Homo sapiens: one gene and its partners. The protein of the gene in region 1 interacts with the protein of each later gene in a pairwise test. Each region holds a gene or a part of one and is shown in the gene's direction. Other genes may lie near its edges. The genes, in order: PIAS4, GABPB2, SYNCRIP, MAGEC3, LPIN1, LARP4B and MTNAP1.

Region 1 (3,500 bases):
GTGGCGCGATCTTGGCTTACTACAGCCTCCTGGCTTCAAGCGATTCTCCTGCCTCAGCCTCCCAAGTAACTGAGATTACAGGCACGCACCACCACACCCAGCTAATTTTATGTACTTTTAGTAGAGACGAGGTTTCACCATCTTGACCAGGCTAGTCTTGAACTCCTGACTTCAGGTGATCCACCTACCTTGGCCTCCCAAAGTGCTGGGGTTACAGGCGTGAGCCACTGCGCCCAGTCTCATTTTTTGTATTTTTAATGGAGACGGGGTTTCGTCATGTTGACCAGGCTTGTCTTGAATTCCTAACCTCAAGTGATCCACCTGCCTCGGCCTCCCAAAGTGCTGGGATTATAGGCGTGAGCCACCAGGCCCGGCCCCAGTCAGCCTTTTAAAAACTCCCTGTGTTTCATTTCTATTTAAACTTGTACAATTATGCGCTTGTCCTAGAAAACTGGAGTCAACAGCAGAGCAGTCCGGCCGGCGCCCTGCTGCCCGAGTGGGCCGCCTCGGTACACCGGGCCGGTGCTTGCCGCCTTCTCCCTTTGCATGTGTGATTGTAGGAATGTGTGGCTGTGTCCTGGCTGCTATTTTATAACCACCCCCCATACTGTGAGCATCTGCTCACAGCGTTAAATATTCATCGTCAGCAGCATCTCGTGAGGCTCCCTGGCAGCCTTGGGTGGAGCCAACGGCTGGGCCCTTCTTGTTGGGCTCTCGGATCGGGCCCAGGGGCTGCTTTTCGTGCCCGGGCCGGAGGGCCTGGCTGAGCACCTCACCCCAGAACCGGCTCTGCCTGGCAGGGCCCCCGTGGTCACCTGATCTTGCACCTGGCCCCAAAGGTGCATCTGGTTCAGTGGTGCCCTTGCCTTGGTCCCGTGGCCTTGGATGCTGGGCAGCCCACGAAACCATCTCCCCCTTGGGGAACTTCATGCTTCAGTGGCCCAACAAGAAGGAGCAGCAGAGTGATGTAGGGAAACTGAGTCGCTCCTTAGGAGGAGAAGGTTTGGAGAAAAGTGAGGTGGCGGGGGGTGCGGTTTTTAAATGGGGTGCTCAGCGAAGGCTTTCCTTCTGGTGACATTTGTACAAAGACAAATATAGGGCCATGAGGCTGGTCGGGGGAGGAAGGTTCCAGAAGAGGGAATGGCAGGTGCGGAGGCCCTGATGCAGCATGGCTGGTGGGGCCCAAGCAGGAGGCCAGGGTGGTGGCCGTGTGTGCGCCGGGGTGTGTGTGGCCCTGAGCAGGGGTACTGAGGGTCAGGGGTCTCCTGCGGAGCCATCCCAGGGGGCGGGCTCTGGCTGCTGAGACCGGCAGAGCTGGGGGCAGTCGTCTGCACCGGGCGGGATTTGAAAACAGAGCTGACAGGACTGGCTGAGGGAGTGGATGTTTGCAGGACAGCAGAGACGGGGGCTTCATGGATGCCACCTGGGTTTCTGGCCCCAAACAGCTGACCCCGAGGGCAGAAGGGCAGGTTTGAGGGAGACCCCACAGCCCCTTCCCCAGCATAGGGGGGCCGGGTGTTTGGGGGGAACCGTCAGCGGCCCGGGGCCAGTGGCACAGCAGTGAGAGCACAGGGCACCTCCCAGGCCCCCAGCAGAGAAGCACAGCCCGGTCTCCCCCAGAGGGAGGAGCCCTCCCAGGGCAGGGACCCCAGAGTCTTGTTCTTCAATGACTGGGCCCTGTCTGCCCCAGGCATGGGCTGGCAACAATCCCTGGCCAGCTGGGTGGCTCCCTTGCTGCCTGCTGGGGACCCACCCTTCTCCCCTACCTCCTTCTGAGACACTGAGGGGTGGGGTGTCTGTGTTTTCACCTCCGACCCAGCCTGGAAGCTCAAGGCCCAGCTCAGGTGTAGGCTCCCGTGCAGCCTCCCTGCCCCTGAACCATTGCTCCCCTGGCACTCAGGGCAGACCTGGGCGCGTCTGCAGGTGGCCTGTGTGCCCCCCTCCCAATTAGGCGGCCTTCCTCAAGGGCCCAGCCGGGACTCCACAGCCCATCACCTCTGCAGAGACTGGCTGTGCCCTGAGCATATAAACGGGAACCGGCTGTGGCAGCCCCCTCTTCCTGAGGGCCAGCCACAGACCCGGCACCGGTCCCCGAAGAAACAGGTCAACATGGGCGGGACGTGCAGGCTGAGGCCACAGAGGCCCTGGCAGGGCTGGGAGCCGAGCCCAGGGAGTCTGGCTTTTTTCTTTTTTTTTTTTTTGAAATGGAGTCTCGCTGTCGCCCGGGCTGGAGTGCAGCGGCAGGATCTCAGCTCACTGCAAGCTCCGCCTCCCAGGTTCACGCCATTCTCCTGCCTCAGCCTCCCGAGTAGCTGGGACCACAGGCGCCTGCCACCACGCCCGGCTAATTTTTTGTATTTTTAGTAGAGACGGGGTTTCACCATGTTAGCCAGGATGGTCTCTATCTCCTGACCTCATGATCCGACTGCCTCGGCCTCCCAAAGTGCTGGGATTACAGGCGTGAGCCACTGCACCCGGCTTCTCGTGGGTTTTAATTGAGAAAGTTCCAAGACAGTGCTGGTAGTTGAGGTGCGATCCCATGGCTCCGGTTCTTGTAAAGGCCCTGTCGTGGGTGCAGGCCACACCACTGTGTGCACTGCCGTCCTGGGAGCACCTGGGAGCACAGACATAGCCTGCGAAGCTGATGAGCTCCAGCCTTTACCAGGGGCAGTTCGCCATCCCTGTTCTAAAGGGCTTGCCTGTCATCTCGTTGTCTCGTCTCCCGGCCACTGCAAGGCTGCCATTGTGGCCAGATTCTCGCTCCCCCACGCTCTTCCGATATTTTTTACACTTATAAACAAATAGGTGTTTACTCAGATGCCTTCTCTCCATTTTCATTACACAAGTGATAGCAGGACGTGCACGCTGCTCAGCGTTTTTGCTTTGTATCTAAATATATTTTTTAATGTAGACACAGTCTTGCTATGTTGCCCAGGCTGGTCTCGAACTTCTGAGCCCAAGCAGTCCTCTCACCTCAGCCTCCTGAGTAGCGGGAATGACAGCTGCACACCAGCACACCTGGCTCAGGCTTATTTAAAAACTTTTTTTAGAGACAAGGTCTCACTGTGTTGCCTGGGCTGGGCTCCAACTCCTGTGCTACAGCGATCCTCCCACCTTGGCCTCCTGAAGGGTTGGGGTTACAGGCATGAGCCGCTGTGCCCAGCCTGCAAGTTTCTTTGAACGCATGTTTCCATGTATTGAGGGAAAATACTTTGGAGTGGGATTCCTGATTCCTGGGTGATAGGGTAGGTCTGTGCTTACCTTTATAAGGGTAGTTTCCCAGAGTGATGGTACTGTCTTATAACCCCACCAGCAGAGAGTTCTGATTGCTCTACACCTTTGCCATCTCTTAGAGTTGCCAGTCCTTTCATTTTAGCCATGCTAGTGGGTGTGTAGAGAGGTATTTTATTTTATTTTACCTCATTTTATATTATTGATACAGAGCCTCACTCTGTCACCCAGGCTGGAGTGCAGTTACACAATCTCGGCTCACTGCAACC
Region 2 (3,500 bases), on another chromosome or scaffold:
TAATCCAGTATGTCTACATCCTCTCCAGCATTTGGTATCATCACTTTTTAAAAAACTTTTAGCCCGGCACAGTGGCTCACACTTGTAATCCCAGTACTTTGGGAGGCCAAGGCAGGTGGAATATCTGAGGTCAGGAGTTTGAGACCAGTCTGGCTAACATGGAGAAACCTCATCTCTATTAAAAATACAAAAATTAACTGTGTGTGATGGCATGCACCTGTAGTCCCAGCTACTCAGGAGGCTGAGGCAGGAGAATTGCTTGAACCCAGGAGGTGGGGGTTGCAGTGAGCTGAGATTGTGCCACTGCACTCCAGCCTAGGTTACAGAGTGAGACTTCTCGATAAAAAAAGGCCGGGTGTGGTAGCTCACGCCTGTAATCCCAGCACTTTGGGAGGCCAAGGCAGGTGGATCACGTGAGGTCGGGAGTTTGAGACCAGACTGACCAACACGGAGAAACCCTGTCTCTACTAAAAATACAGAATTAGCCGGGTGTAGTGGGGCATGCCTGTAATCCCAGCTATTTGGGAGGCTGAGGCAGGAGATCACTTGAACCTGGGAAGCGGAGGTTGCAGTTAGCCATTGCACTCCAGAGATCACGCCATTGCACTCCAGTCTGGGCAACGAGAGCAAAATTCCATCTCAAAAAAAAAAAAAAAACAACTTTTAGCCATTCTGACAGATGTGTAGTGTGTCATGTGTGTTGTGTGTGTGTTGACTCTTCTCTCACTTATCTATGAGAAGAGAATTAATTTAGGTACAGATAATGGCTATTGGCTTTTATTAGAGGTCTCAAAAATATATAAAGACTTCAGGCCTTCTTTTGACAGATTATTTCTGCAGTTTTTTTTGTTTGTTTGTTTGTTTTAAGACAGGGTCTCATTCTGTCACCCAGGCTGGAGTGCAGTCGCGAGTTCTTGGCTCACTACGGCCTCAACTTCCCAGGCTCAGGTGATCCTCCCACTTCAGCCTCCCAAGTAGCTGGAATTACAGGCATGCTCCACCATGCCTGGCTAATTTTTTGTATTTTTTTTGCGGAGACAGTGTTTGCCATGTTGCCCAAGCTGGTCTTGAACTCCTGGGCTCAAGTGATCCTCCCACCTTAGCCTCCCAACATGCTAGAATTATAGGTGTGAGCCACCTTGCCCTGCCATTTCTGGGCGGATTGATAAGCTAATTGGCCATAGGTGACCTAGAGTCAGACACCTTCATATAAGAGCTTCAGACTTGGGACTTACTTGCATGGCTTCCAAGCCTGCAAATCTATACCCTTCCTTTTTGAGCCATTCTCAGTGCTCTATTAATCCTTTTTGTTTCTCCCTGAAGGGCCATGCCTTACCTGTTGATTCGAAAATTCAAAGAGATATTAAAAATAATATATCAAGGAATATATTTTACTTTCTCTTTCTTTGCTTTTTTGTTGAGATGGGGTCTTGCTGTGTTGTCTAGGCTAGTCTTGAACTCCTGGATTCAAGAAGTCCTCCAGTCAGCTGCCTGAGTAGCTAGGACCACAGGCACACACCACTGTACCCAACCTAGAATATATTTTAGTTTATTTTCTAATTAAAAGCAAGCAAAACCTCTTTGTTTTATTATGCATTCATCACCTCCAATTGGTGTCCTTTGACTTGTAGTTCTAACTGTACCTGCTGGTAAGGTTGCAGAGGAGACTGTAATTAAAGAGGAAGAAGAAGAGAAGTTGCCACTAACAAAGAAACCAAGGATAGGAGAGAAGACAAACAGTGTGGAGGAAAGCAAGGTAATGTTTTTAGGAGTGATGAAAAGAATTTAAAGCCTTAATTATTAAGGCCTGAACCCTTCTTCATCTTTTCTTTTTTCTTTTTGAGACGGAGTCTTGCTGTGTTGCCCAGGCTGGAGTACAGTGGCATGATCTCAGCTCACTGCAACCTCCGCCTCCCGGGCTCAAGTGATTCTCATGCCTCAGCCTCCTGAGTAGCTGGGATTACAGGCACCTGCCACCATGCCTGGCTAATTTTTGTATTTTTAGTAGAGACAGGGTTTTGCCATGTTGGCCAAGTTGGTCTCGAACTCTTGACCTCAGATAATCTGCCTACCTCTGCCTCCCAAAGTGCTTGGATTATAGGTGTGAGGCACCGCTCCTGGCCTGTCTTTTTGTCTACTGTCTGGATAATTTATGATCAGGAATTTACCTGGTGGTGACATGGCTTACTTTTACAGGAAGGCAATGAAAGAGAGCTACTACAGCAACAACTCCAGGAGGCCAATCGAAGAGCCCAGGAATACCGACACCAGCTCCTAAAGAAAGAGCAGGAAGCAGAACAGTACCGTCTTAAGCTGGAGGCCATAGCCCGACAGCAGCCCAATGGAGTTGATTTCACCATGGTTGAAGAGGTGGCTGAGGTAGATGCTGTAGTAGTCACAGAGGGGGAGTTGGAAGAGAGAGAGACAAAAGTGACTGGGTCAGCAGGGACCACAGAGCCTCACACTAGAGTTTCCATGGCAACTGTTTCATCTTAATATGCAAGGGCCACAATTTGCACTGTGTTCATATTAATCCTCTTTTAAAAAAGGAAATATACAGAAGACAAACATTGTATAAAAACTAAGAGTGTCTTTAAGAAGAAAACTATAGCAGGGTACAATGCTTGGGCTCAGGAAGTTTCTCTGTGCAACTAGAAAATTCAAAGCCATATTTAGGGAACATTTTTTCTGAGGGGCCAAAAGAATAAAGGACCAAATTTCTTAGCTCATATCATTGCTTTAAACATAGAAGTAAAAGAATACTGCATGTTGTGGGTTGATTTTTTTTTTTTAAATAACTGACTTTCTCACAAAAGATTTTAAGATAACATTTCTAATATATATGCACCAATATATATGCCTTTAATAATTATACCATCAAGTGACCTGAAAATGCCCCTTAGATTTATGATGCGTATCTGTTGGAAAAACCAATTGGAAGGGAAGTTAGACAAGCTTTGGGGAAGAGAAAAGGAATATAGTCCATTTCCAAAGGAGCAGGAACTCCCAACCTTAAGTTAATTTCACTGAAGAGAATTTTCCCTTTTTTTTTTTTTTTTTGAGACACGGTCTGACTCTGTCACCCAGGCTAGAGTACAGTGGTGCAATCTTGGCTCACTGCAACCTCCGCCTCCAGGGCGCAGCCTCCTGAGTAGCTGGGAGGACAGGCATATGCCACCACATCACTGAGAAGAAATTTTTGATTGTCTGACAGATACTTATCCATTATGTGTCTATAGTTCAGATGCTTGTGTAAGAAACTGAAATAAGCTGCGTGTGGTGGCTCACACCTGTAATCCCAACACTTTGGGACGTTGAAATGGGAGAATTGCTTGAGTCCAGGAGTTTGAGATGCGCCTGGGCAACATAGAAACCTGTGTCTACAAAAAATTTAAAAATTAGCCAAGTATGGTGACAGGCACCTATGGTTCCAGCTACTCAGGAGGCTGAGGTGGGAGGATCGCTTGTGCCTTGGAGGTCAAAACTGCAGTGAGCCATGG
Region 3 (3,500 bases), on another chromosome or scaffold:
TGGGGGGCAAAATCACTCCTGTTGAGAACTGTTGGTCTGTGTTAACATGGAGGAGTATTTTGTTGACCCTTTTAGGATTTATGTATTGTAGTATTGGGTGGTTGAACTTAATTTACAGGTATCCAGAGGAGCTTGTATGGTAGAAGTTTCAGGGAAGGAAGGCAATTTCTTCAGAGCCATAGGAGTATAAAAATTGCATGTGGCCCAGCATGGTGGGTCACACCTGTAATCCCAGCACTTTGGGAGGCCGAGGCGAGTGGATCACAAGATCAGGAGTTTGAGACCAGCCTGGCCAACATGGTGAAACCCCGTCTCTACTAAAAATACAAAAAATAGCCGGGCATGGTGGCAGGCGCCTGTAATCACAGCTACTCGGGAGGTAGAGGGAGGAGAATTGCTTGAACCCAGGAGGCGGAGGTTGCAGTGAGCCGAGATAGTGCCACTGCTGCACTCCTGCCTGGGGGACAGAGCAAGACTCTGTCTCAGAAAAGACAAAAAAAAAAAAACCCTGTATGTTTAAGAGTTGATATAAAAAGGTATTTGAGAGAGAGAGGAGAAAGTAGCAGGAGTCATCTTTTTACTTTTTTTAATGTTGTGTCTCTGGCATAAATGTAGAGAAATAGAAGTAAACCTGGGATCAGGAGGGCCACACACTTGAATAGCCTGTACAGAATAGTGGGGTAGAAAGCAATAAATTTTTCTGAACTGGAGGTATGGTATTTGAACTTTATTAAATTTTGATTTTCTGGAGATGGGGAAGGGACAGGGAGGACTCAACTTTCTGACTTACATGTTTTCTTCTGTTATACCCGGTGTACCTAGCAAGGATGGGCATAATAGAAGAATGGTTTCTTTTGCTGTAAGGTATTTCTATAAAGTTGTATGGAAATTGATGTTGGTTCTTTAGTTTGTGTAGCTCCACGTGTAGAATAGATTTTGAGGTTAGGTGTGGGAGGATTAATCAATAATTATTGCCGCTGCTGCCGCCATTATTAGTAACAAATTTTGAGGTGTGGTTTTAACTAACCCATATAATCCACTTTTCTAGATTACTTGGATACTTTTGCACTTGGGTTTGTAAATAATACTAATTGGTGGATTTGTCACTTTGACATGTTGCTTTTTGCCTCTGCTTTCTGATAATCTGGGATATGGTTACTCGAAAATTCAATTTACTTTTTACTGTAGTTTTAAAGTTGTTTCTGTATATTTTTGCCATGACAAATCTACTTCTCTTTCTCCTTCATAATTTGTTATATGCATAATGAAAATGAAATGGGGAAAAAGTACAGTTGGATTTAGAAATAAAAGCTGTTTTTTTAGGCTTAAATATTTGAAGCCTGAAATTTCTTATTACAACTTTTGATAAGAGGAAGGGAAGATGGAAAAATAGATTTAGGTGCTGGTTAACAGAACGGCAGAGATCTTGCTGATCTTGGGATCAGTTTTCCTTGTATGAGAATAACTGGTTGATGGGATGAACTTAAGTAAAAGTTAAGTTTTTGAGGAACTGGCAGTTTTTGAATTTAAGCTGCTGCAGATCTGATTTCTAATTAATCAAGTAAAGGATTTAATAACCTTTTATTTGCATTAAATTGGTTCATGAACTTGTCCAATGGGTCTTGTTAATATAATCTGTTCCTCATAATTCCCTTGTATGGGAATTAAGGTAAACTACTTTTTAAAGGATGATTTGCTCTTGTGTATCTTTTATAATTAACTGTTCTAGTTGTATAAGTAATTTAAAAACATGATGCACTTTTTCCCCTTTCAGTATAATAATCATGAAATTCGTTCTGGAAAACATATTGGTGTCTGCATCTCAGTTGCCAACAATAGGCTTTTTGTGGGCTCTATTCCTAAGAGTAAAACCAAGGAACAGATTCTTGAAGAATTTAGCAAAGTAACAGGTAAGTTGGATTTATTTGGAATGAGGTGCAGCTTTTAATAATGAAGATTAATAGCATATTTCTGTGCGTCATGCATTGTTCTAAATACATTTATTGACTCATCGAATCCTCACTACAACTTTTGAAGTGTAGGTAACCCCATTTTTCAGATAAGAAGAACAGGCATTCAGGGATTTGGGAAATAACTTGCCAAACGTTGTACAAGTTAGTAGGGAATACAGCTAGGGTTTGAATTCATTCTGCAAAATCATTGTTCTTCCTATGTTTTGGAAGATCGTATTTCTTTGTGTGTTCTTTCTCTAGGTGTTAGTTGATGTTCTTAGTAGAATTGTTTGAATAATGATTTGATGTTCTTGAAATTACAGGAGTAGTAAGTATTGCCGTAGCAGAGTGTTTTTTTTTTTTTTTTTTTTTGGAGACAGTCTTGCTTTGTTGCCCAGGCTGGAGTGTGCTGGTGTGATCTTGGCTCCCTGCAGCCTCTGCCTCCCAGATTCAAGGGATTCTCTTGCCTCAGCCTCCTGAGTAGCTGGGATTACAGGCGCGCACCACCACACCTGGCTAATTTTTGCGTCTTTTGTAGAGGTGGGGTTTCACCATATTGGCCAGGCTGGTCTTGTACTCCTGACCTCAAGTGATCTGCTTGCCTCGGCCTCCCAGAGTGTTGCGATTACAGGTATGAGCCACCGTGCCTGGCCCATAAACAGAGTTTATATATTGTCAACATGGTAAAAAAATTTTTTGAACTGTAACAACTTTTAAGTGACAGGTTGCTTTTAGAAAATATTTTGGTCTGCCAACAGTGTCTAACAAATTATCAGCCTGTTATCAACTTTCAGGACATTGGAAATTTTTATGCAGTACTTATAACTTCTATTTTATTTGAAATAAAGCCATTGATATCTAAGGCCAGAAAAGTGCCATTAAAAATAATTTTAGTGTTTGCATAATAAGAAAAATAGCCATATTTGATCTATACTGCCATTTTCTTAGAACAATTATATGAAAATTTTTATCTGCCTCTCTGATCTAATTAGTGAAAACAAAAGTAGTCCTTACCTCTAAAAAGAGCACATGTTCTTTTCTGGAGATTTCTGTGTTGAAAAACTTGGAAACAGATTAGGAAAATAATCCGGACCTAGTTTTTGATAGTCTTTTATAAAGATGTCTAGTGAAGGAAAGAGATGATTTTTCATTTTGATATTTAAGTAGTATCTTAGATAAATCCTTTGATCCACTTGTATTTGCTAGTTATTTCATCTAATTTTCCTGGAATGGTTGCTTACTTGCAGAGGGTCTTACAGACGTCATTTTATACCACCAACCGGATGACAAGAAAAAAAACAGAGGCTTTTGCTTTCTTGAATATGAAGATCACAAAACAGCTGCCCAGGCAAGGCGTAGGTTAATGAGTGGTAAAGTCAAGGTCTGGGGGAATGTTGGAACTGTTGAATGGGCTGATCCTATAGAAGATCCTGATCCTGAGGTTATGGCAAAGGTAATGATAGTCAAGTTAAAAATATTTTTTGAGGGATTAATGGGAGAAGGGCCGGGGTTGGGGTGGGGGGAACATAAAATGAACAGTATACATTT
Region 4 (3,500 bases), on another chromosome or scaffold:
GCCAAGTAAGAGGGAATTAATGCAAAGTTGTCCCAGGTAGCCTTCCCCCAGCCACTATTGAGATTTCAAGTCCTGCTCTCAGGAAGCAAAGGTTCATGAAAGCAGTCAGGCCTTTTATGGCTGAGACAAGGGGGCAGAAGTAGCTGCTATTTCCTGTGCTCCTCTTTGACTCTTATCTTACTTCTCCCTGGTACTGAAGTGACCAAAGACCCCAGCCTCTTTCAGTGCTTTCAAATCCAGCCTTACAGATGCTCTAATTTACTCATACTGCGAACTTGCTTAAAGATAATTTATACAAAGACTTATTATTCTAAGAATGTCTGTGTATTTCTGAGGTTTTTTATAATAAACATATTTTAAGGTAGGTTTTGAATTTCCCTGTAATTGTTTTTTCTGTTTAATATGAAAAAGGGTTCCACTTACATTAGGGTTTTTGTATGGATATTCTGTTGTTCCACTGACACTTATTTCAAGAAGACTGTCTCCTGTTCTAAAGCTGCAAGTTTTAAAAATCAGTTAAGCACATGTTTATACATGTTTTGTTGGTTTTGTTTTTCAGAACTCTCCATTCAGTTCCTTTGGTCTATCTGTCAATCTCTGCACCCAAATCTCAAACTCTTCATTATAGTAGCTTTGTAATTCTTACTGTCTGGTAGACTAATGACTCTTTTTCAAGTGTATATTGACTATGCTTGTCCATTTGCATGTCTTTATATTTTAGAATCAGGTGATTCACACATGCCTTCATGTCCAAAGCCCTTTGGCAGTTTTGATTTAGGATTGCAGTCGATCTGTAGATTCCTTTTTGGGAAGAATCAACATATTTAAAATATTGAATCTTCATGCCCATGAATTTATTTTATTTTATGTTCAGGTAGGTCTTTGTTAATATGCCTCAACAGCATTTTAATATTTTTGTCTGTAAAAATTTTTTGGTTAAGCTTTTTTAACCAAAAAATATTTTAACCAGCCATCAGCTGCCTCCCAGTCTTATTTGGTTAAAATGTTTTTGGTTAAATTATTTTCCTAAGATACTTGATATTTTGGTACTATAGGTTAAAATTATATAGTCTTTACTTTCATTTTCATACTCTTTCCCTGACAAAAAACGAAGTTGATATTCTTTTGAATATTGACCTTATACTAGCAAACTGATATACTATTATATATTGAATAAATTATCTTTAGTTGTTTTGGATTCTTTTCATGCACAGTCTAATCATGCATGAATCACAAACGCTTTGTTTCCAACTGGCCAATCCTCATTCCTTCATTTACTGCTCTTTGGATTACTACACTGGCTACTACCTCTAGTATAAAAAGTAATAGAAGTACTTGTAGCAGAAACTCTAGGTTAGGTCTCAAGTTCAAACTAGAGGCTTCCAACATTTCCTTAAAAGATGTATCTGTTGTAGGTTTTTCATGCATATCCTTTTATCTAGTTTGGTAACATTTTTCATATTTGATAAACTTTATGTTTAAATAATTTTAGATTTACAAGAAAATTATAACAATAGTAAGAAAGTTCTCATATGTTCCACACTCAATGCCTCCTGTTATTAACACCTTACCTTGGTAAGGTTTCCTAAAACTAATGAGCCAGTATTTGTACATTGTTTTTAACAAACATTCTTTATTTATTATTGAACATACTTCAGTCACATTTTCTTACTTTTCACGAAATTCTATTTTCTATGCCAGGATCCCCTAAGGATACTCCATTACATTTAGTTATCATGTTCCTTCGATGCCCTTTGGCTGTACCGGTTGATTGAGACATTTCTCGATTTTGAAAACATTGACAGTTTTGACAGTTTCGTATGGTTAGGTATTTTGTAAAATTGACTTTGACTGGGATTTATGTGATTTTTTTCTGTCATGATTTGATGTAGGTAATGTTTCCTGGAAGGATGAACAGAGAGGTGAAGTGCCGTTCTTATCATACCGACAGCACATAGTACCAACAAAATTTGTCACTGATGATGTTAACTTGATTACCATGGCATCATCGTGCTTTTTAGCTTTATTCAGGGTAAAATTACATTATTTTTTGCCGTATGTTATACTGTCATCATGAGAAGAACAGGGAGACCCAGGACCAGCCAGTAGTCACATGAAGCCTCTGAGAGATAACTGCAAGACTCCCTGCCCACAAAGAGAAGGATCCACAGAATCCAGCTCCACTGCTGCTGTCAGCCCTGGGAGGCCCTGGGGCATGGTGGCCCACTGTGGTGTCCCCCTGACATTTTAGAGGGTAGAAAGAGGAGAAGGCTCTGCCTAGGTGAGTCTCACTTCAGATCATGAGAGGTGAAGGGACTCAGGCCCTTCCAGGCATCCCCAGGATGACACAGAGGAAGGACTGGTGAGACACCCCTCCCAAGAAACAGAAGGACACACAAATCCAGGCCCTGTTTTCACCCCTGGGAGGCCTTGGGCAGGGCCCTCAGTCAGAGATGCTAGCGCTTTTCACTTCGTCTTGGGGGGCGTCTCATGGAAATGGGGACCTTGATCTGAAGAACATAGTCTCTGGACAGCAGGGGAAGGGCTCCCAGGCCATGTCAGGAATAATAACTGCAGGAAAACAGAGAGTCCTGCCCACCCCATTTTAGAAAAAGGACACCAGAGTCCTGCCTTGGGCCTGGGAGGCCCCACCCCACTGTGGGTGGATGTGATTCTCCCTCTCTTGCACCTTGCAGGTCTCAGGGATGGGAGGGGCTTATTCGGAGGTGAAAGACTCAGTTGCACAGAGGCAGGAAGGCCAGGCGGTTTCCAGGAGTCCAGGCACAGCCTCTCGGGAAGGCAGGAAGGGAACACCCATGACTGGTAGTGCCCCTCCCCTGTCCCTGTGCCTGCTGCCAGCTCTGGAGGACCCTATCAGGGTCCCCAGGTTTACAACTTTCTGACTTGCATTTTGGGAGTCAGCCGGAGGGGAAGTTTTCTCTGAGGAGGGCAGTTTCAGTTAAGCAGAGGGAGGAACCCCAGGACTGGCCACTCAACGAGAAGAGAACTCTGTGGAAGGACAGTGACCTTCCAACATGGAGGAGAGGCACAGGCTACACCCTTTCCCTTCCTGCCGTCAGCCCTGGAAAAAGGTTGTGGGGGGAGAAAGCGGGGAGGTGGGCAGGGAAATATGGACGAGGGCTTTGAAGTGAGGAGGAAAAGGTGGAGGGATACCGAGAGGTGGGCAGGAAGGGGTGGAAAGGGTCGGGGAGGTAGGCAGGAAGGGGTGGAGGGGGCCCAGGAGATGGGCAGGAAGGGGTGGAGAAGGGCCGGGAGGTGGTCAGGAAAGTGTGGGAAAGAGGTAGAGAGGTGAGGGGTGGTTCCTCCATAGAGAGGAGACCTAGCCCCACTGGGAGTCTGAAGTATTTGAGGCATTTTGTGAGAAGGCTTAATTGAGATCAGCAGACAGAAGACTCTTAGAACTGGCCGATCCTCAAGGTAAGGGCCCTAAGGGAGAACTGAGGGACCTCCCACCACAGAAAGAAGAAGCTCTTGCCTGC
Region 5 (3,500 bases), on another chromosome or scaffold:
AGACGCCTGCCACTTTGCCACCCTGGAAGCTCACTGCAAGAGCTGCAAAATTTCCCACCTGCCTAACACAGGCAGGGCTTTGGTGGCGGGACCCCAGGGCTGGCTGTTTTTGCTCTTTCATCACTTTTGTCAGGAAGTATTGAAAGACCTTTAAAAGGCCTCTGACTTGCAGGGCCTCTGACCTGCAGGCCTTTTAAAGCATCTCCAGCTTTTCTAGTGAGTTTTTGTATTTTGGACGGGAATGTCTCACGAACCCTGGCATGCCAAGAAAGTCCCCAATTTCCCAGCAGGTAGTGATGGATGCAGAGCTGTGCTCTTCTGTTTAAGAAGCTCCTCAAGGCACTCTGGCCAGGACAGTTTAACCACAGGGACGCTGGTGGACTCAGTCAATCCAGACCTGGCAGAGGGCAGCAGCTGCCTATAAGTGTGTGCCAGTTACAGCAGGGCGTGGGCTGCTGCCCAGGTGGCCTGACTTTCTGTCTGTGTTCCTTTCCCTGTATCACCCTGAGTCTGAGCCAGACTTCCTCTTTTGTCACAGGTAATTCATCACCCTTATCAACCGCCGTTAAGTATCAGTCCACAATGCTCTGAAAAGACTTCCTCTTTGCCGTAAGTGTAAATTACAGGAGGAAGCTAACACTATTTATAAATCAATTTCATTTTCATGCAAGTCTTATTAGTCATGATACCATTTTGGGCACTTCCTAGAAGCTTTTTGTGTTTTTAAATGCTTTGGATGAAAATCCTCATTTGTCTTGTAAACCTCCAAGGTGGATGTGATCTCGGCGAACACCAGTAACAGCGTGATGTTTGTGACTTTATCCAGTGCTGGGCGGACCACAGATAGAGTCCCCAGGTGCTGAGACACTGACTGTAGTGTGCTCAGAGGAGGGCGGCTAGGGCAGTGAGCAGGAAGCCCCAAAATCGTCCCTGTCAAGCCCAGCTGGGGAGCCGACAGTGCCTTCCCTAGAGGAAGGGTGCCAGGGGTGGTCATTTAGTTGTCCTGACATGATCCGTTGGCCCCACGAGCAGCAGCCAGGTCTGTATCTGAGAGCTGTAATTTCCTGCTGATAACAGGAACACAGATAAGGGGCACCCCATCCCAGAGTGATATTAGGTTGGCTTTTGAATCACCAGGCTCCTTGGATGTGCCTTAAGCCCACAGGTGCCCTTTAAGCACCTGCCGTGAGGGCAGATGTGACAGATCGTGTTTGCTCTCTGGGCAGTGAGTGGGTTTTGGGTAGCTTCTCTCCAGGAAATGATGAATCACTCGGAGCTGAGCAAGTGCCAGAGAAGTCTTCAATCACAGACTGAACCCAGGAGGGTGTTTCGGCCTTTCTAAGTCCTTAAGGGTTGTAGGGAAGGTTTTGAACAATGGCTTTTGACTTTACCTTCTGAGAGGCTCTGTCAGGGAGTGGTGATGCTGCGGGTGAGAGCAGTTTTGAAGGTGTCACATCCAGGGCCAACCCTGAGCCTTGCTTCTGTAGCCACCTCCTATGGGAGGTCATGACAATAATAAGATTTTGCATGTGTTGTCCAGGAGCAAAGACCTTTCCAAACTAGTCGTTGTGTTGACCACTGAGGATGACAGCCTGGTGGGCTCAGTCAGAGCCATTGTGTTAATACCCTGCTCCCACACACATAGCTGGTAAATGCCAGAAGTTAACACTCACAGCCAGGCCTTCCGACCCCCAATTTTGTGTCATTTCTGCTTTTCAGTCTTACCCTTAGGTGTCACAGCTGTTTATTTAAACTGTTTGCAGTGAATTTTGTTTGGGAGCATTGTCTTGTGAAATTTATGCTCTGGCAGAGAACAATTCCTGCTGTCTTCTTCATTTCTTCTAATTTTTTTTTTTTTTTTTGAGACGGAGTCACCCAGGCTGGAGTGCAGTGGCACGATCTCGGCTCACTGCAAGCTCTGCCTCCCGGGTTCACGCCATTCTCCTGCCTCAGCCTCCCAAGTAGCTGGGACTACAGGCGCCCGCCACCATGCCCGGCTAATCTTTTTTGTATTTTTAGCAGAGACGGGGTTTCACCATGTTAGCCAGGATGGTCTCGATCTCCTGACCTCGTGATCCGCCCGCCTCAGCCTCCCAAAGTGCTGGGATTACAGGCATGAGCCACCGCGCCCGGCCATTTCTTCTCATTTTTAAATTTTAGTGCTTTTCCCCCTCGTGCCCCGACTTGCCAAGCTACTTTGAGGGTGGTGGGTGCATCTTGCTGTTTTACACTCTGGAATGTCGTGATGGGACCAAAAATAAAAGTTTCTTGCTTGAGATGGGCCCTGCGATGGGGCAGGTACCGCGTCAGAAATGAGCAAGCCTCGTCCCTGTCCTCAAGGAGAGAAGACTCACTTGGTAGACAGATGTCTGTTCAGCCACTTGACAAATGACAGTAATATTGATCAAGCTACTGCCCTGGATGGCTGGGCTGGAGGGCTGAGGAGAAGGTTGAGGCTGAAAGATAGAGTTGTGTGGGCATGTTTATGAAGGGGTCATATACCTGGACAGCCGGGGGAGGAAATGGAGGAGGCAGGTGGAAATCCAGATTTGAGGGGTAATTATTGTTCAACTCCTGCAAGACACTTAGTTCTTTTTTTTTTTTTTTTGAGACAGAGTCTCGCTCTGTCGCCCAAGCTGGAGTTCAGTGGCGCCGTCTCGGCTCACTGCAAGCTGCGCCTCCTGGGTTCAAGCGACTCTCCTGCCTCAGCCTCCTGAGTAGCTGGGACTACAGGTGCGTGCCACTGTGCCTGGCTTATTTTTTGTATTTTTAGTAGAGACGTGGTTTCACCGTGTTAGCCAGGATGATCTCGGTCTCCTGACCTCATGATCTGCCCGCCTTGGCCTCCCAAAGTGCTGGGATCACAGGCATAAGCCACCACGCCTGGCCACTTAGTTCTTAAAGAAAGGAGAGTAGGAAGAAAAGTACAAGTGAGAAAGATGAACAAAAACGGGGATTGTAAGAGTACATTTATTGAGACAGTTTTGCATTTGCATTTGCTCGGCCAGTCTTATATATAATTAGATGTTGCTTACCATGACATCATTTCATTTCCAAGGAGCAAACCCACAATGTGAAAATGGACCCACTGTTATGTCCCAGATAACGTGCCTTAGGTAATGTTCTAGTTGAAGGAACTAGAAAGGGAATTAAAATCATTGTTATTTACTTGCATAATAAATGAGTGGAACAGCAGATTCCTGAATTGTCCATTAAGAGGCGTGGACTAAAATAATTCAAATCCCTTTATTTATTTATTTATTTTATATTTTTTTGAGATGGAGTCTCACTCTGTCGCCCAGGCTGGAGTACAATGACGTGATCTCAGCCCATTGCAACCTCTGCCTCCTGGGTTCAAGCAATTCTCCTGCCTCAGCCTCTCGAGTAGCTGGGATTACAGGCACTCACCATCATGCTAATTTTTGTATTTCTGTAGAGATGGGGTATTTTGTAGAGAGCCTGACCATGTTGGCCAGGCTGGTCTCGAATTCCTGACCTCA
Region 6 (3,500 bases), on another chromosome or scaffold:
GTATTTATAAAGGTACAAAAATTAAGCCATGCTTGTTTCTTGTAAATATAAATTTGCCATCTTGAATTTGCATAAAGTGAATTTCCCGTCTACATGAGCAGTTTTCTAAATCTGAGGAAGGCCAGTATTCAGCAATGTAATTTGATTACATCCCCCTTGTTAATTCACCAGTAACTGGTTAGTGACTTGGGAATGGCAGAACATTGGGATAAACTGGAGTCATGTTAGAGTCCATTGAATTTAAGATGGCAAAGGAAAGGAATGCTCATCATTAAAACAGATTTTTACAAAAGATAAAAAGGCATTATACATTGAGGGAGTGAGAATCCTAATGGTAGGAAGTAAAATGGTTCAAAATAAACAATTTAAGTTTCAGACTAAATTGAAATGACCTAATCTTGAACTGGGGTCAGAATTTATACAGAAGATGGAAGATAGATAGGAGGTAGACAGATGTGAAGATCTGTCTTGAGGATGGAAGATGGGTAATGTTATCAACAGTGAAATAACTTGTGAAAATCTGCCTGAAGACAGGAGATAGATAACGTTACCAAAAGTGAAATAACATGTTAAAATCTATCTGAAGATAGAAGATAGGGAACATTATCAAAAGTGAAATAACAACATGTTAAAGTATATTCTGGAAAGTTTAATTTCAAAAGGTGATTCTTTTTAAAAGGGGTATTTAAAACTATTTTCAAAAAGAAGAAAAAGAATACCTTCTGCTTTGTCTTCCTCCTTCATCTGCCTCCACCTACTCCCTCTCTCACTCCTATAAAGCATTAGTGAGGCATAACCGATGTACAATAAACATCATATACTTCAGGTATACCCCAGATTTTCTGTAGCTTACAGACAATTGAGGAAATAATACATTATTAATGTGTTGCCTCTTTCATTCCTCTTTGCTTTGTCCACCCAGTTTGATAAGTTGTTCTGTACCTGTAAAATCCTCAGCACAATCAAGATCACGAACATCCCAAACACCAGGAAGAGCTTCCTGTGCCCTCTCCTTTCTCCGTGGAACCGGTGGTCTGTTTTTTTCTTTTTGAGATGGAGTCTTGCTGTGTCACCCAGGCTGGAATGCAGTGGCGTGATCTCGGCTCACTGCAACCTCCGCCTCCCGGGTTCACGCCATTCTCCTGCCTCAGCCTCCCCAGTAGCTGGGACTACAGGTGCCCACCACCACACCCGGCTAATTGTTTGTATTTTTAGTAGAGACGGGGTTTCACCGTGTTAGCCAGGATGGTCTTGATCTCCCGACCTCATGACCCGCCCACCTCGGCCTCCCAAAGTGCTGGGATTACAGGTGTAAGCCTTCATGCCCGGCCCAGTGGTCTGTTTTCTATCACTATATGTCAGTTTGCGTTTCGTAGATTTTTTTTCTCTTTAAAAAAAAAGATGGAACTCCTGGGCCCAAGAGATGTGCATCAGCCCCACAAGTTGCTGGACAACAGACGTGTGATAGAATTTGACAGTGTGTACTGTTTTTGTCTGACTTAGGTTACTATTTTTGAGACTGATTCATGTTGTAACATGAATTAATCATTTATTTTTATTGCTGAGAAGTATTCATGATATGGATAGATCACAGTTTGTTTTTCTATTCCCCTATTCATGGATTTTGGGATTGTTTTCAAAATGTGGCTTTGCCAATAAAAAGTGTTCATAAAAGTGAACATTTGTCAGCAAGATTTCATATAAACATATGTTTTCATTTCTCTTGGGTAAAATACCTAGGAATGGAGTAGCTGGATCATCTGGTAGGCATGTTTATCCTTTTAAGAAATGGTAAGGCAGTTTTCCAAAGTGGTGGTACCATTTTCTATTCTCAACCAGTGGTGGATTAAAGCACCACATCCTTATGACCCTTATGACCTCAGGGTCAGTCTTTAATTTTAGCTGCTGTAAAAGGGAGACAGTAGAATCTTACTGTGGCTTTAATTTATGTTTCCCTAAGGACTAATGCTATCAAACATCCTTTTTAAAAAAAAGACTGTTTTTTTTAGAGCACTTTCAGGTTCACAGCGAGTTTTAGTGGAAGGTATAGAGATCTCCCATATACTCCCCTCCCCCCCACCCCCACACATGCATGGCCTTCTTCACTATTCACACTCCCTCACCAGAGGGTGCCTTTGTATAATTGATGATCCTATATTGGCACATCATTATTACCTGGAGTCTACAGTTTACATGAGGGCTCACTCTTGGTGTTGTACGTTCTGTGGGTTTGGAGAAATGTATAATGACATGTACCCTCCATTGTAGCATCAGAGAGAGTAGTTTCCCTGCCCTAAAAGTCATCTGTGTTCTGCCTACTCACCCCTCCCTCCCCCCAACCCCTAGCATCCATTGGTTTTTTCACTGTCTCCATAGTTTTACCTTTTCCAGAATGTCATAGGGTTGGAATCCTGCAGGATGTAGCCTTCTTAGATAGGTTTCTTTCATTTAGTAACGTACATTTAAGCTTCCTCCATGTCTTCAAGGCTTGATAACTCATTTCTTTTTAGCACTGAATAACATTCCATTGTCTGGACATACTACAAATTACTTAGTCATTCACCTACTGAAGGACATCTTGGTTGTTTCCAGGTTTTGGCAATTACAAATAAAGATGCTGTTAGCATTCATGTGCAGGTTTTTGTACGGAAGGAAGTTTTTAACTCCTTTGGGTAAATACCCAGGAGTGTGATTGCTGGATCATAAGGTCAGAGTATGTTTAGTTCTGTAGAAAGCTGCTGAACTGCCTTCCAGAAGTAGAATTTCTGGATCATATGGTAATTCTTATGTTTAACTTTTTTTGGTGGAATCACCATACAGTTTTCCATACAGGCCATAGTATTTTACATTCCCACCATCAGTGTACAAGGGTTCCAGTTTTATTAAATCCTTGCCAATACTTGTTATTTTCTGATTTTTTTTTTTTTTTGAAATGGAATAATTCTGTTGCCCAGGCTGGAGTGCACTGGAGCAATCTCAGCTCACTACAACGTCCACCTCCCGGGTTCAAGCAATTCTCCTGCCTCAGCCTCCCAAGTAGCCTAGATTACAGGTGTGAGCCACCACGCCCAGCTAAATTTTGTATTTTTAGTAGATACGGGGTTTCACCATGTTGGCCAGTCTGGTCTCAAACTCCTGACCTCTGCCCATCTCAGCCTCCCAAAGTGCTGGGATTACAGGCGTGAGCCACCACACCCAGCTAACTTTTGTATTTTTTGTAGAGACAGGGTTCAACCATGTTGTCCAGGCTGGGTTCGAACTCCTGACCTCAGGTGATCTGTCTGCCTCGGCCTGCCAAAGTGCTGTGATTACAGGCATGAGCCACTGCGCCCAGCCTATTTTCTGATTTTTTTGATAGTAGTCATTCTAGTGGGTATATCTTTGTAGTTTTGGCTTGCATTTCCCTAATGGTTAGTGATGCCAAGCACCCTTTTTGTTCTTATTGGCCATTTGTCTTCTTTGGATAAATGTCTATTCAAATCCTTTGCCTATTTTTGAAT
Region 7 (3,500 bases), on another chromosome or scaffold:
GTGTTTTGTTTTTTTGTTTGTTTGTTTTTTGAGACAGAGTTTTGCTCATTGCCCAGGTTGGAGTGCAGTGGTGTGATCTTGGCTCACCTCTGCCTCCTGGGTTCAAGCGATTCTCCTGCCTCAGCCTCCCAAGTAGCTGGGATACAGGTATGCGCCACCACGCCCGGCTAATTTTGTATTTTTAGTAGAGATGGGGTTTCTCCGTGTTGGTCAGGCTGGTCTTGAACTCGTGACCTCAGGTGATCTGCCCGCCTCAACCTCCCAAAGTGCTGGGATTACAGGTGTGAACCACCGTGTCCAGCCTTCTGTGTTTTTCAGTTGCAGATGCACACACTCCCCCCATGATAAATCTCTCTACCAAATTGAAGGACTTGTGTATTTTCTGTACTACATTTTATAGTGCTTAGGAGTGTCCTTGATACACACTTTTCATTTTAGAGGAAAAAGTGAGGGACCTGACGTTTATCTGTGATGACTATGACTATCGTTATGCTAGATACATTATGTCATTTAATCCTCATAACAGCTCTGAGTGACACCACTGTCCCACCCTCTTATTCCTCTTGAGGAATCTGAGCTTCAGACATCTTTTTTTTTTTTTCTTGAGACAGAGTCTTGCTCTGTCTCCCAGGCTGGAGTGCAATGGCACAATCACGGCTCACTGCAACCTCCACCTCCCAGGTTCAAGCGATTCTCCTGCTTCAGGCTCCAGAGTAGCTGGGATTACAGGTGCCTGCCACCACGCCCAGCTAATTTTTTTTTTTTTTAAGTAGAGATGGGGTTTTGCCATGTTGGCCAGGCTGGTCTCGAACTCCTGACCTCAGGTGATCCTCCCGCCTTGGCCTCCCAAAGTGCTGGGATTACAGGTGTGAGCCACCAGGCCTGGCCTGAGCTTCAGACATTAAGTGACTTCCCTATGTTCATGCAGTAAGTGACAGAATCAGGATTCAAACCCAGGTTCGTCTGACTCTACTAACTATTCCAAACAGTGAACCTCAAGTTGAGTTTAAAGACCACAGATAGAAGAGTCAGGTGAACCTGGAGGTATTAACTACTAACTCTCCCAAACAGTAAGCCTCAAGTAGAGTTTAAAGACCACAGATAGAAGTCAATACCTTGTTTGATATGTTATTGATACATTTCACTGTTAGCTCCTAAGAATACAATAATAAGATACAGTAACTTAAAACATTAAATTACCAAGGTTATGAGACAGGATATAGGAGGGAAAATAGAATTTTTTCTTCAGTAACAAGTTCCTTCCAAATAGTGGTGAGAAACTATTTTAATCCCTTTTATTGCTCATAGTCTGTAACTAATAAATGTTGTACTTAGTTTGGGACTTCTACATCAAGACAGTAAATAAGGTGTAATCATCATAGGGCCTCTACTTCTATTATAAACTGAAAAACTATTGAAGTTGGATCCAGGATCAGTGTTCAGACTTTGATGTTACCACCAAATGAACACAAGATACTAGAGGAGAGAGACCCTAGGATCAGGTCAAGCCCTGATCCCTCCATTGGCCAAGGACTTCAAGGCCATATCAATCTATAGGGATTAAAAGATGGTGCCATTGGCTCCTTAAAAAGCTTTGTAATTTCACCAGGCAATGACTGTCTCCAATGACTGCAAATTAGAGTTTTATTGGAATCTTTGCACAAGAGAATGGGCTATACCTTTTCTCACTCAGGCAAGACCTTTGATAGGTCATTTGCCCTTCTCAGGAAGCCAACTCATTCCTTTGGTACTTAAAAGGCAGGGCCAGTGAGCTAACAGTTACTGAATTAACTGCAGGTCAGGACAGTAGGCTCACCTGACTGGAGAAAGCAGGGCAAGGTCAGGGAGCCACGTGATCCTGACACTGCTGACAACATGGTTGCAATTTTCAGGAAGTTGTCTCTTTACACCGTTTTCCTCAAATTTTTTCCAAGATGAATGGGTTTTTTTTTTAAGAGACTAACCTTCACCTTGCAAGAGAATTATCTTCTGTGCAATTTCTTGGAAGCCAGCATGATTCTTTTCATTGTTCTTTAATGATCATTTGGATATTTTTACATCCACAGCAACTTTTACCACACTTGCTAAACCTGTTGTCGGTGTTTAATTTCTTCTTTATCTTGATGAACCAAACCAAGACTAGAGAACTATCAGTAGTAGAGATTACCTGTCATAAAACATGGAGAAAACCATGTACAGGAGAAATGTGATTAAGGAGCATAAGCCCTCTTTTTTTTGTTTTTGAGGCAGAGTCTTGCTCTGTTGCCCAGGCTGGAGTGCAGTGTAGCGATCTCTGCTCACTGCAAGCTCCGCCTCCTGGGTTCACGCCATTCTCCTGCCTCAGTCTCCCGTGTAGCTGGGACTACAAGCGCCCGCCACCACGCCCGGCTAATTTTTTCTGTTTTTTAGTAGAGACGGGGTTTTACAGTGTTAGCCAGGATGGTCTCAATCTCCTGACGTCGTGATCCACCCACCTCAGCCTCCCAAAGTGCTGGGATTACAGGCGTGAGCCACCGCGCCCGGCCTGCATAAGCCCTCTTTTCTGGTTCTGCTTAAGTTATTCATGCACTGAACATAAATAGGAAATGTTTGCTGGCCAATAATAGCGATAGGGTGATAGAACAGGCATGTTGACTGTGGGCAAGTCACAATCATAAAAGGAGAAAGTCACGCTTTTAGCTGACATGTTTAGCAGATGATAGAATATGTAAAAGAGGCCAGGCGCAGTGGTTCATGCCTATAATCCCAGCAGTTTGGGAGGCTGGGGCGGGCAGAACACATGAGGTCAGGAGTTCAAGACCAGCCTGGCCAAAGTGGCGAAACCCCGTCTCTACTAAATAACAAAAATTAGCCTGGCGTGATGGCGTGTGCCTGTAATCCCAGCTACTCGGGAGGCTGAGGCAGGAGAATCACTCGAACCCAGGAGGTAGAGGTTGCAGTGAGCCAAGATCATGCCACTGCACTCCAGCCTGGGCGAGAGAGTGAGACTGTGTCAAAAACAAAAAGATGATGTAAGAGACTCACTTCATGAAGCACATGCGCATCAATCACCTGGCCAGGGTACTCAGCAGACCAAAAAACAAGTAGACGCCCTGATTTTCAGGGGTCCCTTGGCCTTTTGAAAAACATTTTTTCAACCTGTAATTGATTTGACTTTCAACACTTAGCTGCAGTCCAATGCAGAAATCTTTAATGCACCTGTTTAGAATATGCTCTTCCTGAGGCTTAGCCGTGGATCCTTCGGCACTGGATGTTAGGGAAGGGGGTACGTTTCGGTAAACAATGACAGTGACTTCTGTTTGGAACCATAGTTTCTTTGTTGGAACGAAGCTCAACTCATATAAGGAGTTTGGAACCCCCTGCCGGACTTACAACCTCCAACTTCTCTCTAATGAGGCTCTTGGGAGCTGTACAAAAAGGTGAGGCTGGAGTTTGACTGTTGTCTTCTGTTGCAGGTTCTGGGCATTTGGAAAAGTTTCTCTTCGGGCTGTTAAGCAAGG

What was found.
Region 2: the proteins of PIAS4 (region 1) and GABPB2 interact in binary tests that used the Homo sapiens proteins (3 or more experiments, as listed by UniProt).
Region 3: the proteins of PIAS4 (region 1) and SYNCRIP interact in binary tests that used the Homo sapiens proteins (3 or more experiments, as listed by UniProt).
Region 4: the proteins of PIAS4 (region 1) and MAGEC3 interact in binary tests that used the Homo sapiens proteins (3 or more experiments, as listed by UniProt).
Region 5: the proteins of PIAS4 (region 1) and LPIN1 interact in binary tests that used the Homo sapiens proteins (3 or more experiments, as listed by UniProt).
Region 6: the proteins of PIAS4 (region 1) and LARP4B interact in binary tests that used the Homo sapiens proteins (3 or more experiments, as listed by UniProt).
Region 7: the proteins of PIAS4 (region 1) and MTNAP1 interact in binary tests that used the Homo sapiens proteins (3 or more experiments, as listed by UniProt).

Annotation. Positions count from the first base shown.
Region 1 is NC_000019.10:4,017,736-4,021,235, forward strand, and holds part of PIAS4 (E3 SUMO-protein ligase PIAS4), read left to right. Parts: intron 1-3,500.
Region 2 is NC_000001.11:151,115,761-151,119,260, forward strand, and holds part of GABPB2 (GA-binding protein subunit beta-2), read left to right. Parts: intron 1-1,631; coding exon 1,632-1,756; intron 1,757-2,196; coding exon 2,197-2,496; 3' UTR 2,497-3,500. UniProt on the Homo sapiens protein: May function as transcription factor capable of interacting with purine rich repeats (GA repeats).
Region 3 is NC_000006.12:85,622,387-85,625,886, reverse strand, and holds part of SYNCRIP (heterogeneous nuclear ribonucleoprotein Q), read left to right. Parts: intron 1-1,774; coding exon 1,775-1,910; intron 1,911-3,199; coding exon 3,200-3,405; intron 3,406-3,500. UniProt on the Homo sapiens protein: Heterogenous nuclear ribonucleoprotein (hnRNP) implicated in mRNA processing mechanisms. Component of the CRD-mediated complex that promotes MYC mRNA stability.
Region 4 is NC_000023.11:141,876,316-141,879,815, forward strand, and holds part of MAGEC3 (melanoma-associated antigen C3), read left to right. Parts: intron 1-2,859; coding exon 2,860-3,116; intron 3,117-3,500.
Region 5 is NC_000002.12:11,753,132-11,756,631, forward strand, and holds part of LPIN1 (phosphatidate phosphatase LPIN1), read left to right. Parts: intron 1-2,615; exon of another isoform or gene 2,616-2,733; intron 2,734-3,500. UniProt on the Homo sapiens protein: Acts as a magnesium-dependent phosphatidate phosphatase enzyme which catalyzes the conversion of phosphatidic acid to diacylglycerol during triglyceride, phosphatidylcholine and phosphatidylethanolamine biosynthesis and therefore controls the metabolism of fatty acids at different levels.
Region 6 is NC_000010.11:858,706-862,205, reverse strand, and holds part of LARP4B (la-related protein 4B), read left to right. Parts: intron 1-3,500. UniProt on the Homo sapiens protein: Stimulates mRNA translation.
Region 7 is NC_000017.11:73,238,933-73,242,432, forward strand, and holds part of MTNAP1 (mitochondrial nucleoid-associated protein 1), read left to right. Parts: intron 1-3,168; exon of another isoform or gene 3,169-3,311; coding exon 3,312-3,419; exon of another isoform or gene 3,420-3,490; coding exon of another isoform or gene 3,491-3,500. Other genes in the region: CPSF4L (putative cleavage and polyadenylation specificity factor subunit 4-like protein), read right to left, coding at 3,491-3,500. UniProt on the Homo sapiens protein: Critical regulator of mitochondrial DNA (mtDNA) abundance. Binds dsDNA throughout the mitochondrial genome without sequence specificity and controls mtDNA copy number by promoting its replication.